Homo sapiens: one gene and its partners. The protein of the gene in region 3 purifies or fractionates together with the protein of the main gene of each other region. This does not show direct contact. Each region holds a gene or a part of one and is shown on either strand. Other genes may lie near its edges.

Region 1 (3,750 bases), on a different chromosome or scaffold from region 3:
GGAATGTTTATGTGTAGTGAAGCTCTGAGAGGACTTTGCATTAGATCTCAGCAGCATAATCAGAAGGTTGTCCTTTGTCTCAGCAATTTTTAAGCTAATAGTAGCAGAAATTGCAGTGGAAATAGACTGCTTTGCCACAACATTCAGAAAATCATTTATCTTTTTATTGCAGTTCTTGTCACCAAACAATACATTTTAGTACTTCTCAAATTGCAGAACTCTCATAGGGCTGGGAAAATGCCTGTAGACACATACATACTATGAATGTGCTAATGTTTTTTGTATTTTCATAGCCCATCAAAGCTCCTGAGTCAGTTTCCACTATAATCACTGCAGAATCAATCTTCTACAAGGTAAGCTTTTGTAGAGTTACTGAAGGAAGAGTTGGGCCTAGTGGGTAATGTGCCACTAAAATGTTGGATTAGTCTAAAGGTCTCTGCTACTCTTTATTTGTATAAGGTGTGATTATACTTTTTGTTCCCTTCTTAGCTGTTTTCCCCCATAAGTGGCTGTTATTAAAACATCTCATCTAGAGCTGAAGTGGGAGGAGAAAGTGCCTACTGACACATGATGTGAGGATCTTAAGTATTTTTTTTTAGTGTAGATTGTAGGAATTATTCTTAAAATGCTGATTGTATAGTGTGGAGCCATGGAAGACTGAGCCGTTAGTGCGATGGCATTGAAGAATGAGAAGGACAGAGACAGGATTTGGACTAGTAGAGGTTGTCGACTGTGGTGTCAAATGGGTAGAGTAGGCCCAGAGATTCTAAAATGCCTTTAAGTGGAGTTGAGCTGAGTAAGGGCAGTAGTGAGGATTAACACCTACTAGAAATTCATAGTGAGAGGAATTCCAAGATGTTTTGATAAAAGAATGAGGAGGTCAGGTTTCCCAGGGCCAAAGTCCATGAACATCTGATACCTCAGTGAGAGAAGTGACAGATTGTTGTGTTTAAACCAGAAGTCTTAGGAAAGGAATTAGAACATAGACCCCCAAGGCTCGGCAGGCCTGGCACGGCACAGGCAGCAACCATTGAAGGCTATTTGGTGTTTCGGGATCTGAACTGTCATTTAGGGGACAGTGGTGTGAGTTAGTACTTTATACTTGACCCAGGTGGACTGAGAAACTCAAGTGATGATGCCCTTAAGTATACTTTTTTTTAAGCCCACAATCTATATAGTCGAAGTCTGTTCCTCCCAACAGGGGTACACTGGCATTCCTCAGCAGGGCTGGGAAAAACCAACAACAAAAAAAGTCTGTACACAGGCAAACATCTCTCTTATTTTTCCAACATTTAATACATTGTTAATAAAATATCTAAAGTTTAGCAAACAGTTGCTGTGTATCAGTGGCTGAGCATTTTGCATGCTTTATTTCATTCAGTTCACTCTATGAGGTGGATACTACTATCCCCATTTTCTAGATGAGAACATTGAGGCACAGCGAGGTTAATTAACTTGTCCAAGATCACATAGCCAACAAGTCATGGAGTGAGGCAGTCTCATGCCAGAGCTTAAGCCTAGAGCATAGTTCCTGGCTCTACAGCTTTAGCAAGTGACTGGCTATGTGACGAGGACCAACCTCTCTAATGTCTCATCTGTAAAATAGGAATTGTAAATAGTTACTACCTCAGTGGGTCAAATGAAATCATATGTGTTAAGCACTTAGCAGAGTAAGCACTCAATGAATAGTAGGAGTTATCACATCTTCGTATTTGTGCATTACCTTCACAGTTTACAGATTAAGGCCAGAAGCAACTTGTTGAGCTACGGGTTTAGTGTACTAACAGTTTCCATGTGTGTCTCCATGGAAGGGTGTGTGGGACCTGTTATTGTGACTGTCTGTACTTTCGTATTGTTGTCTGCCACCCATGTTTATTAAATGATAAGGACAATAATGCAACAAAGTAGTCAAGTAATGTTGCAAATGCCCAGTATTGTAGTGGCTATCACAGCAGTGCCACTGGCAGGCAGCACCATGGTGGCAAGTTCAAGAGGTCACTGCCAGCCACTGAGCTAGAGCCCAGATCAGGCATGCAAGAGGAGCCTGAGTGGGAGCCACTGGGGATCACGGCCAAGAGTGTGACCACCCAAGACCCAGAATGGCTGAGTGGCCTCCCTGGAGCATGGCAGTGGCAGAACAACTCCATGAACTCAGATCTGGTGATGCCTAAACTAGTGCTGTTCTCGTGTGGACCCCTTTTCTCTACCAGAAACCTTGAATCCTCTCAGCAAATGAGGAGACTACTCAGATCAGTGACTTAGTCCTGTTTGGTGTTATATATGTGTACACAACACAGCACATATTAATAAATACCTACTATGTGCCAGGCACTGCCTACCACTGGAATCTTTCACTAAGACATTGTTTTTACTTTGCATTTCTGCCTTTACACTATGAAAGTAGATGTTTTGGATTCATATTCATTCAGCATACATTTGAATATGCTGTGTTATGCATAGTAAGCCTATGATAAGCAAGTATTCTCATTTAGAATTTGGGAATATTGATTATACATGTGGACAAACAAACCATAAATGCAAACTATTTATATGATAAATAACTTTGGACTGATGGCTGGGAGGAAGGACCAGCTATTGATGGGTAGGAACTAGCAAGTAGCGGACTGTGGCCTGCATAGACCAGACCCATCCGTAGTGATCCAGATGAAACAGCCACCCTCAGACACTTGGATAAAGGGTCCACCAGGAAAAAACTCCTGGCCTATCAGGTGCTATGTTACAGTTCAGTTACTGGAAGTATTTCCTCAAAAGTGTTTTTATGGTTGAGGTACACATTCCTACAGCTTTACCTGCTGCCAAGTCCCTGTTTCAAGGGAAGCAGCAATGAATTACACTGTTCCCGTAGTCAAGGACAGTATATCTTACCAAGAACTATACCCACTTAAGGAGGTGCTGGATGTCATAAAGATTTGGATCAACCATTATGGGTGTTCAGAGGAGAGATTATTTCCAGCTCAAGACCCAGGGAAGAGGACATAGGATGGATACCAGAGTCATAGGGAGGATTTAACACAGGACATGTACACATTAGTTAGTTGGGTATAAAGTGGAACAGAAATGAATGAGACACAAAGCCTTGAATGCCAGAAATACTAGTAGTCCTGTTGTGGAAGGATATAAAACTCAACTGGGAGTGGAAGAGAAAGGCAGCAGTGAGTCTAGGAGATGTACAGTAGGTTGAGGTAAACATATCCTGAAGACTATAATCCAAAGATTATTTTTGGTTTGAATTTGTTTTGGTTTGAATTCATGGTATCTATTTTCTTTGAGTGGATGGTTGGGGAGGGTGGCATGTAGAATGCATTCTTACCAAATCAGCATGATTTTCAAGACAGTACAGAGAAAAGACTGCTGAGCTGATGTAGGAGCTTTGGCTGCAGTCTCTATGGCTTTCAGCAAGCCGTTTAACCTTACTACTGCTTCATGACTGTGGCTAACAAAGTAGGGATAGTACGGAGCACAGAGGATTTTTAGGGCGGTGAAACTATTAATACTCTCTTTGTATGATACTATAATGGTGGGTACATGTCATTATACATTTGCCCAACCCCACAGAATACACAGCACCAAGAGTGAACCCTAATGTGAACTCTGGTCTTTGATGATGCTATGTCAGTGTACGTTCATCCGTGTAACAAGTGTACCACTCTAGTGGTGGGAGGGGTTATTGATAATAGGGGAGGATGTGCATGTGTGGGGGCAGGAAGTATATGGGAAATCTCTCTACTT
Region 2 (3,750 bases), on a different chromosome or scaffold from region 3:
GGAGTTTGATGTCAGGGAGCATAGTCCAAGATCGGGGTGCTGGCTTGTACCTGGGTGTGGTGTGTGTTCCCCAGATATCCTCTCTGGGGCATAGGCTCACCTTACCGGGGGCTGAGGCCTGTGCATCCATAACTGAGCCACCTTTACAAATGAGCTCCCGTGTGGTCATCGCCTCTACGTGCTGCTCAGTGCTTCTGGCTCTAACCTCCCTTCCAGCCCCTCCTCCCTGCCTGCCCTCACTTACTCAAATGCTCTGTATTCCTAGACATATCTTGGCTGATGCTGTTCCCTCCAGATTCTCACTTTCCGCCTGTTGAAATCCTACCCTTTATTCCCCACCAGCCCAGCTCCTCCAAGATGACATACTCCATATGGCAGCGTTTTTCAAACTTGAGTCATTCACATTCATTGTCTTTCCCGTTCTCAAGTCCTGCTTGTATAATTTTTGACTTTTTTTATTTAAAGAATCTTTTTTTTTTTTTTTTTTTTGAGACGGAGTCTCGCCCTGTCACCCAGGCTGGAGTGCAATGGGGCGATTTCGGCTCACTGCAACCTCTGCCTCATGGGTTCAAGCGATTCTCCTGCCTCAGCCTCCCAAGTAGCTGGGATTATAGGCACACACCACCATGCCCGGCTAATTTTTTGTATCTTTAGTAGAGATGGGGTTTCACCATGTTGGCCAGACTGGTTTCGAACTCCTGACTTCGTGATCTGCCCGCCTCGGCCTCCCAAAGTGCTGGGATTACAGGCGTGAGCCACTGCACCCGGCCAAGAATCTCATTCTTTAAAAATAAAATTAAGCTCATTTAAAGCGGGACACAGTAGCACGTCCCGTGTAGTCCCAGCTATTCGGGAGGCTGAAGTGGCTTGCTTGAGCCCAGCCGGGGTGATATAGCAAAACTCTATCTCTTTAAAACATAAAATAAAATAGGCCGGGCACGTTGGCTCACGCCTGTAATTCCAGCACTTTAGGAGGCCAAGGCGGATGGATCATGAGGTCAGGAGTTCAAGACCAGCCTGGGCAAGATGGCGAAACCCCGTCTCTGCTGAAAATAAAAAAAATTAGCTGGGTGCGGTGGCAGGCGCCTGTAATCCCACGTAGTCGGGAGGCTGAGGCAGGAGAATCGCTTGAACTCAGAGGGCGGAGGTTGCAGTGAGCCAAGTTTGTGCCACTGCACTCCACCCTGGGTGACAGAGTGAGAATCCATCTCAATAAATAAATAAAATAAACTCATTTTATTTACTTTTCATTTATTATTATTATTATTTTGAGACGGAGTCTCACCCTGTCACCCAGGCTGGAGTGCAATGGCATGGTCTCGGCTCCCTGCAACCTCCACGTCCCGGGTTCAAGCGATTCTTCTGCCTCAGCCTCTTGAGTAGCTGGGACTACAGGCGCCTGCCACCGCACCCGGCTATTTTTGTATTTTCGGTAGAGACGGGGTTTCACTATGTTGGCCAGGCTGCTCTTGAACTCCTGACCACAAGTGATCCGCCCACCTCAGCCTCCTAAAGTGTTGGGATTACAGGCGTGAGCCACTGCGCCCGGCCTATTAGTAATATTTTTTGAGACGGAGTCTCACTCACTCTTTCTCACAGACCGGAGTGCAGTGGCGCGATCTCGGCTCACTGCAACTTCCGCCTCCTGGGTTCAAGGAATTCTCCTGCCTCAGTTTCCCACCACGTCTGGCTAATTTTTTTGTATTTTTAATAGAGACGGGGTTTCCCCATGTTGGTCAGGCTGGTCTCAAAATCCTGACCTCAAGTGATCCGCCTGCCTCAGCCTCCCGAAGTGCTGGGATTACAGGCGTGAGCCACCGTGCTTGGCCTCATTTTTTTAGTAAAAAAATTTCCCCTGAAAAAAGCATCTGCAAGTATAAACTCATTTTAGACTTGAACACCACCCAATAAGAACAGTAGCACACAGTATACATAAAAGCTGGTGATAGGAATAAATCCAATCAAAACCAAAGCAATGCTACTCAATCCTAGATCAGTACCATTGCGTTGGGGGAAGGTTCTGGCCTTGGGGCAGAATTTGTTTTCCTGGTATTGTCCTGGCTATCAGTACCGCCTTCAAACTTTGTCCTGGAGGGAATCAGAAGAGATGAAAAGAATACTTTTCTTTCTGGGTGACTGAGTGTTACTGCTTTGGCCATTGGGAGGCCATCTGGCTCTTTGGAGGTATTGCTTTCTACGTTCCCTAGCCAAAGAATTGCTCTTCCTGTCTGGATTGACTTCCGCTGGGCCCTTCTCAAGGTGCCGACTAGATTTTAACTTTGCGAAAAGGGCGTGAACATTGAATCTGTTCGCCCACCGCATTGTCCACTAGGTGTAGGGGAGCTTGAGCGCAGGAGCCGGGTCTTGTTTGCCTCATTCTCCCCTAGAGGTCTTGACTTGTATCTCAGATGTGGGCCGGCGCTCAGTAAAGGAGGCCGCTGCTCGCGGAGATGGAAGACGCCGCAGAAGTGGCCTCAGCGTTAGGTGAGAATGTACTCCTCCAGCGCGGTGTGCTTGGCACGTCGAATTGGTTCGGCATTCCTGGCTTTCATAGGTTTTACCCAGAACTTGGTGGCGTCAAGACCGTGCAGGTGAACCTGAGTGAAATCCGGTTTTTGTTTGTTTTTTCTTCATGCATTGGCTAGTTGTAGGTAAAACTCCACCATCCACGACGGTGGGCAGCCATTCTCCCCCGGAAACACCGGTGCTCACCCGCTCTTCCGCCCAAACTTCCGCGGCTGGCGCCACAGCCACCACCAGCACGTCCTCCACGGTCACCGTCACGGCCCCGGCCCCCGCCGCCACAGGAAGCCCAGTGAAAAAGCAGAGGCCGCTTTTACCGAAGGAGACTGCCCCGGCCGTGCAGCGGGTCGTGTGGAACTCATCAAGTAAGTTTCAAACGTCCTCCCAAAAGTGGCACATGCAGAAGATGCAGCGTCAGCAGCAGCAGCAGCAGCAGCAAAACCAGCAGCAGCAGCCTCAGTCTTCCCAGGGGACGAGATATCAGACCAGACAGGCTGTGAAAGGTACCGAGCCTCCCCTTCTGTTCTCCGTGGCGCCCGCTCCCATTTTGCCACATCGACAGGAGAAAGTCATTGCTCTTTTATTTTTTTTTTTTAGTTCTCGTTTGTTTCCGGGCCATTGTATCTTGAAGGCCTTGCACATTCCATTTGGCATTATTTTTAAAAATTGTTTTGCTACTTGCTTTTTTACTTTCAAAAAGTTTTTTTTGTTCATTTTATAAATGATACATGCATATATTCTCCTTAAAAAGGGGGCAGAAAGTTTTACATAAAAGTCTGTTATCCCGTTTACCTTCCATTTCATTCTCTTCCCTTCCACAGTGGCCAGTATCAACCGTTGTAAAAGCTTTTCTATGCATGTATGCATGTATATGTATATATACATATCTGTATGTATATATGTGCGCATCATGTATATGATGCCATAAAATTAGTCCTTTTTCCCCCCTTTTTTTCTTTTTTAAAACATAAAAATGGTACCATACTTGCTTTTTTCCCCCACCCATCAGCATGTTTTGGAGGTCCATCCACATCAGCACATACAGCCCTGCCTTGTTCTTTTGGACTGCTGCATAGTATTTCATAGTTTATTTAAAGCATTCCTCTACTAATGGGCATTTAGGTTGCTTTCAGTTTTTTTTCTACTGTGAGCAGTGCTGCAATGAATATCTTTGTATAAATTTCCTTGTGCACATGAGGGAACCTCTTGGAGTTATTTTGGAAAAAG
Region 3 (3,750 bases):
ATATAGTTTTCCAGATTTAAGTGGTAAAAATCAAAGACTTTGTTGTAAATTTTTTTTTTTTTGGAGACAGAGTCTCACTCTTCTTGCCTAGGCTGGAGTACAGTGGCACGATCTCGGCTTACTACAACTTCCACCTCCTGGGTTCAAGCAATTCTCCTGCCTCAGCCTCCTGGATAGCTGGGATTACAGGCGCCTGCCACCACGCCTGGGCTAATTGTTGTACATTTTTAATAGAGACAGGATTTCACCATGTTGGCCAGGCTGGTCTCAAACTCCTGACCTCAGGTGATCTGCCCGCCTTGGCCTCAAAAAGTGCTGGGATTACAGGCGTGAGCCACTGCACCTGGACATAAATCATTATAATAATTGTATGGAATTATTATGAATCACAGCGTCCTGTGTCTACACCCCTTTGTAATGTGACATTGTCACTCTTCTCATAAAAAATTGGAATTTTCCCACTTCTTGAATCTGGGATGGTCTTATGACTTGCTTTGACCAACAGAATATGATGGAGTGATCTTGTACATTTTGGAGTCTAGGCTTTAGGTCTTTGCTTCCACTCTCATCTTCTTAGAATGCTAAGACCACCATGCAGTGGAAAAGCTCCATCTACCAGAAGATGAGAAGCCATGTGGAGAACTAAGACTTCCCAGCCAATAGCCAGCACCAACTGCCAGACACGTAAGTGAGGCCATCTTGAACCCTCCAACCCTAGATGTATTCACGGTTCTCCAGAGAAACAGAACCAATAAGATGTGTGTGTGTGTGTGTGTGTGTGTTTATAAAGATATTTATTTTAAGGACTTGACTCACTTGATTATAGAGCTTCCAAGTCCAAAATCTGCAGGGTGGGTTGGCAGGCTGGAGGCCAGGGAAAAGGTGATGCTACAGTTCAAGTCTGAGAGCCATCTACTGGCAAAATTCCTTCTTGCTCATGGAAGGTCAGTCTTTTGTTCTATTCAGGCCTTCAGTTGATTGGATAAGGCCTACTCACATTATGGAGGGCAATCTGCGTTATTCAAAGTCCCCTGATTTGTTACTCAGAGGTGAGAAAAATCATGGTGTACTAAAGTCACCACAAAAACTTCTGTAGATCATATGGAGAAGCAGGAGAGATGAAGCTGGAGAGCAAAGCAGCAAATCAGCAATTAAAAAAGATGTTTGGAGTTGTTGAGTTTGGAGATGAAAAGTGACAAGATGAATTCTGGATTTTAGACAAAGCAATCCAACGTGTGGATGGAGAGGGATTTGAGAGGAGAAATCAGCTGTTGTCAGTAAGAGTATTTAAATTAGGATACTGGTAACGGGGATGGAGAGACACACGATTATACATGGGAAGTGAGAGCAGAAAGAATTAGGATTATTTCTTGATTTTTTTTTTTTTTTTTTTTTTTTGCTCAGGCAACTGAATAGATGAAGTCATTAATGGAAACCAGGAACACTGAAGAAACAGTGAACAATTAAAGTACTTTGAGTTATCAAAGTGAGATGTCCTGCAGGTAGCTAGACGATACTGGCTGGTAATTCAGGAGAGCTGCTGCGTCCTGTGTAAAAGGAAAAGCAATTCATGGATGGTGGCTAAAGCCAGCTGGCAGGATTTAGGGGATGGGTTAGACCTGCACTTGTTTTGATGGAGAAGAGGCGGGTATAAAGTGGCAGAGTGAGATTACTGTAAAATATCTGCATTCAAAGGGCTAAAAAAAGAGAAATGCTGGAAAGGCTACTTGCTATAAACGCAGCAGGGTAGGTTAAAACAAATTACGAAGCACGGGCGGTGAGGCGCGGTGCTTAAGATTAAGCCCGGCGTGTTTTCGAGTGCACTGATACACAAAAGGGAAAGGGACCCTCCTCACCGGAAGCACAACCTCTGCCCTCTGGGGCATTACACATTCCTCCGCGCCGGAAGAAAGCGTCACGTCGCGTCGCGCCTCGCCCCGCCTCGTTGCGCCTCGCCCCGCCTCGCCCCGTCGGCTTCCCTCAATCCGTACCTCTAGTAAAGAAGAGCTTGTGCCCCTCCCCGACCCCTTACCAAGGGCGAGCTGCGTGGAGTCGTTGGACTGGGCAGAACTTTGGCGGGCAAGGAGACAAACAGCCACACTGTGCTGCCGGGGAAGAGAAGAAGAAGGAAAGGCCAGACACACAGGCGTCGTGCAGCTGCGGAAGGATTCCGTTTCCTGCAGGGGGCGGAGGGATTTGACAGCACGGTAACTTCCGGAAAAGTCCTGAACCTCAGTGGAAAAGCCTTGCAAGAAACAATAACAAACGGGAGGAGGAAGCGATTCTGGGGTTTCTGTGTTGAACGGTTCTTGTCCGCGAAGATGCGCTTCGGCCTCTGTCAGGGGACTTGAACGGGCTTAGTGGGCTTCAGCCAGCTTTTCTCCACCGGTTCCCCACGGGGACCCCCCCCCCCCCCCGGCCGTTGCAATGGCGGGCGTGGGGCCGGGGGGCTACGCGGCGGAGTTCGTGCCACCGCCAGAGTGCCCCGTCTTTGAGCCGAGTTGGGAGGAGTTCACAGATCCGCTCAGCTTTATCGGCCGCATCCGGCCTTTGGCGGAGAAAACCGGCATCTGCAAAATTCGGCCGCCCAAGGTACCTCAGTCTGTGAAGAGAGAGGGGGAGAAGGAAGAATGGGGGAGTCCGTACACTGGGTTTAGCTTTACTTTTCTGATCCTTGTCTCGTTTCATATGTACTCTCTTTTGAGACAACTGGAGCCTGTTTCTGGATGTTTTTGCCTCGGTTTCTTTTGTGGTCTTATGTAGACACGTCTGAAAGCGAGAAAGTGGTGTCTCTTGGGCCTCTTCCGCCTAGAACTTGGGAACTGATACTTTTCTCTCAGCCGTGGGCCTAAAGCCTTTCGTTAGCCGATATGGTGTTTAAAGTACAGTATTATGACGTGACGTATTCTTCCCTCACGTATCCTCATTATGGTTTGATAGTCGGCTATCTCTTTATTCAAGACCTGGTTGGATCAAATATTTGCAGGCCTCATCTCAGGGCTAGGGTTTCTGAAAAGGTTATCTGAGCTCTAGTCTCACCGGATGGTATTACTAGACAAGAACTCCAGACTAATTATTGCCGCAGTGAAAAAGTCTTAGCGGGGAAAGAGAAGGAGCAGCAATAATTCTAAAATTTAGAGGTTTAGGAAAAATTGGTTTATAGTGGAGGTGGAAGGAAATGTTGAAATCTCTTGACGTAGGGAACTCAAGATCAACGATTTTAGAATCACAGTTATTGCAGATAACTAGGTTTGCCTATAAGGTTAATTATAATCTCACCTTTGAGGTAAGGAAAACAGATACTATCCCTTGTGTGGAGGGGATTAATGCCCCAAGAGGTTGAGTGATTACTCAAGGTCAAAGGTGTTTTTCTTTACTCATTAGACCAGTGCTTTTTAAATGATGTTGCTGGACCACTTGCACCAGGGTCAACTGGATGCTTGTTTAAATGCAGATCTCTAGTCTTGTTGTGGAAGTTCTGGAATCTGCTTTTCTAGCAACTAGTCTCAGATGATTCTCATGTAAGTTGAGGTTTTCGAACCATTGCTTTAGTCGTTGCTTGTTAAAGGCATTTTGCTTTATGTTTTGTCTAGTATTAGTAATGATAAAATATTAAGCACTGTTAACCAGTGTTGCTTTTTAAAAAGCATCTGCCGTCACCACTGACTACCACAGAGATAGGCACCGCAGCGTATTAAAAACTTAAATGACAGCGAGGAGGAACTAATTTAACACCTATAGATTGTTTGC

What was found.
Region 1: the proteins of KDM5A (region 3) and GATAD1 purify together in Homo sapiens (affinity purification with mass spectrometry; 6 studies listed by BioGRID and IntAct, with this or other methods). This does not show direct contact.
Region 2: the proteins of KDM5A (region 3) and ZMYND8 purify together in Homo sapiens (affinity purification with mass spectrometry; 3 studies listed by BioGRID and IntAct, with this or other methods). This does not show direct contact.

What each region holds. Positions count from the first base shown.
Region 1 is NC_000007.14:92,450,408-92,454,157, forward strand, and holds part of GATAD1 (GATA zinc finger domain-containing protein 1), read left to right. Parts: exon of another isoform or gene 1-293; coding exon 294-353; intron 354-3,750. UniProt on the Homo sapiens protein: Component of some chromatin complex recruited to chromatin sites methylated 'Lys-4' of histone H3 (H3K4me), with a preference for trimethylated form (H3K4me3).
Region 2 is NC_000020.11:47,238,034-47,241,783, reverse strand, and holds part of ZMYND8 (MYND-type zinc finger-containing chromatin reader ZMYND8), read left to right. Parts: intron 1-2,645; coding exon 2,646-3,026; intron 3,027-3,750. UniProt on the Homo sapiens protein: Chromatin reader that recognizes dual histone modifications such as histone H3.1 dimethylated at 'Lys-36' and histone H4 acetylated at 'Lys-16' (H3.1K36me2-H4K16ac) and histone H3 methylated at 'Lys-4' and histone H4 acetylated at 'Lys-14' (H3K4me1-H3K14ac).
Region 3 is NC_000012.12:387,769-391,518, reverse strand, and holds the start of KDM5A (lysine-specific demethylase 5A), read left to right. Parts: upstream 1-2,198; 5' UTR 2,199-2,427; coding exon 2,428-2,592; intron 2,593-3,750. UniProt on the Homo sapiens protein: Histone demethylase that specifically demethylates 'Lys-4' of histone H3, thereby playing a central role in histone code. Does not demethylate histone H3 'Lys-9', H3 'Lys-27', H3 'Lys-36', H3 'Lys-79' or H4 'Lys-20'.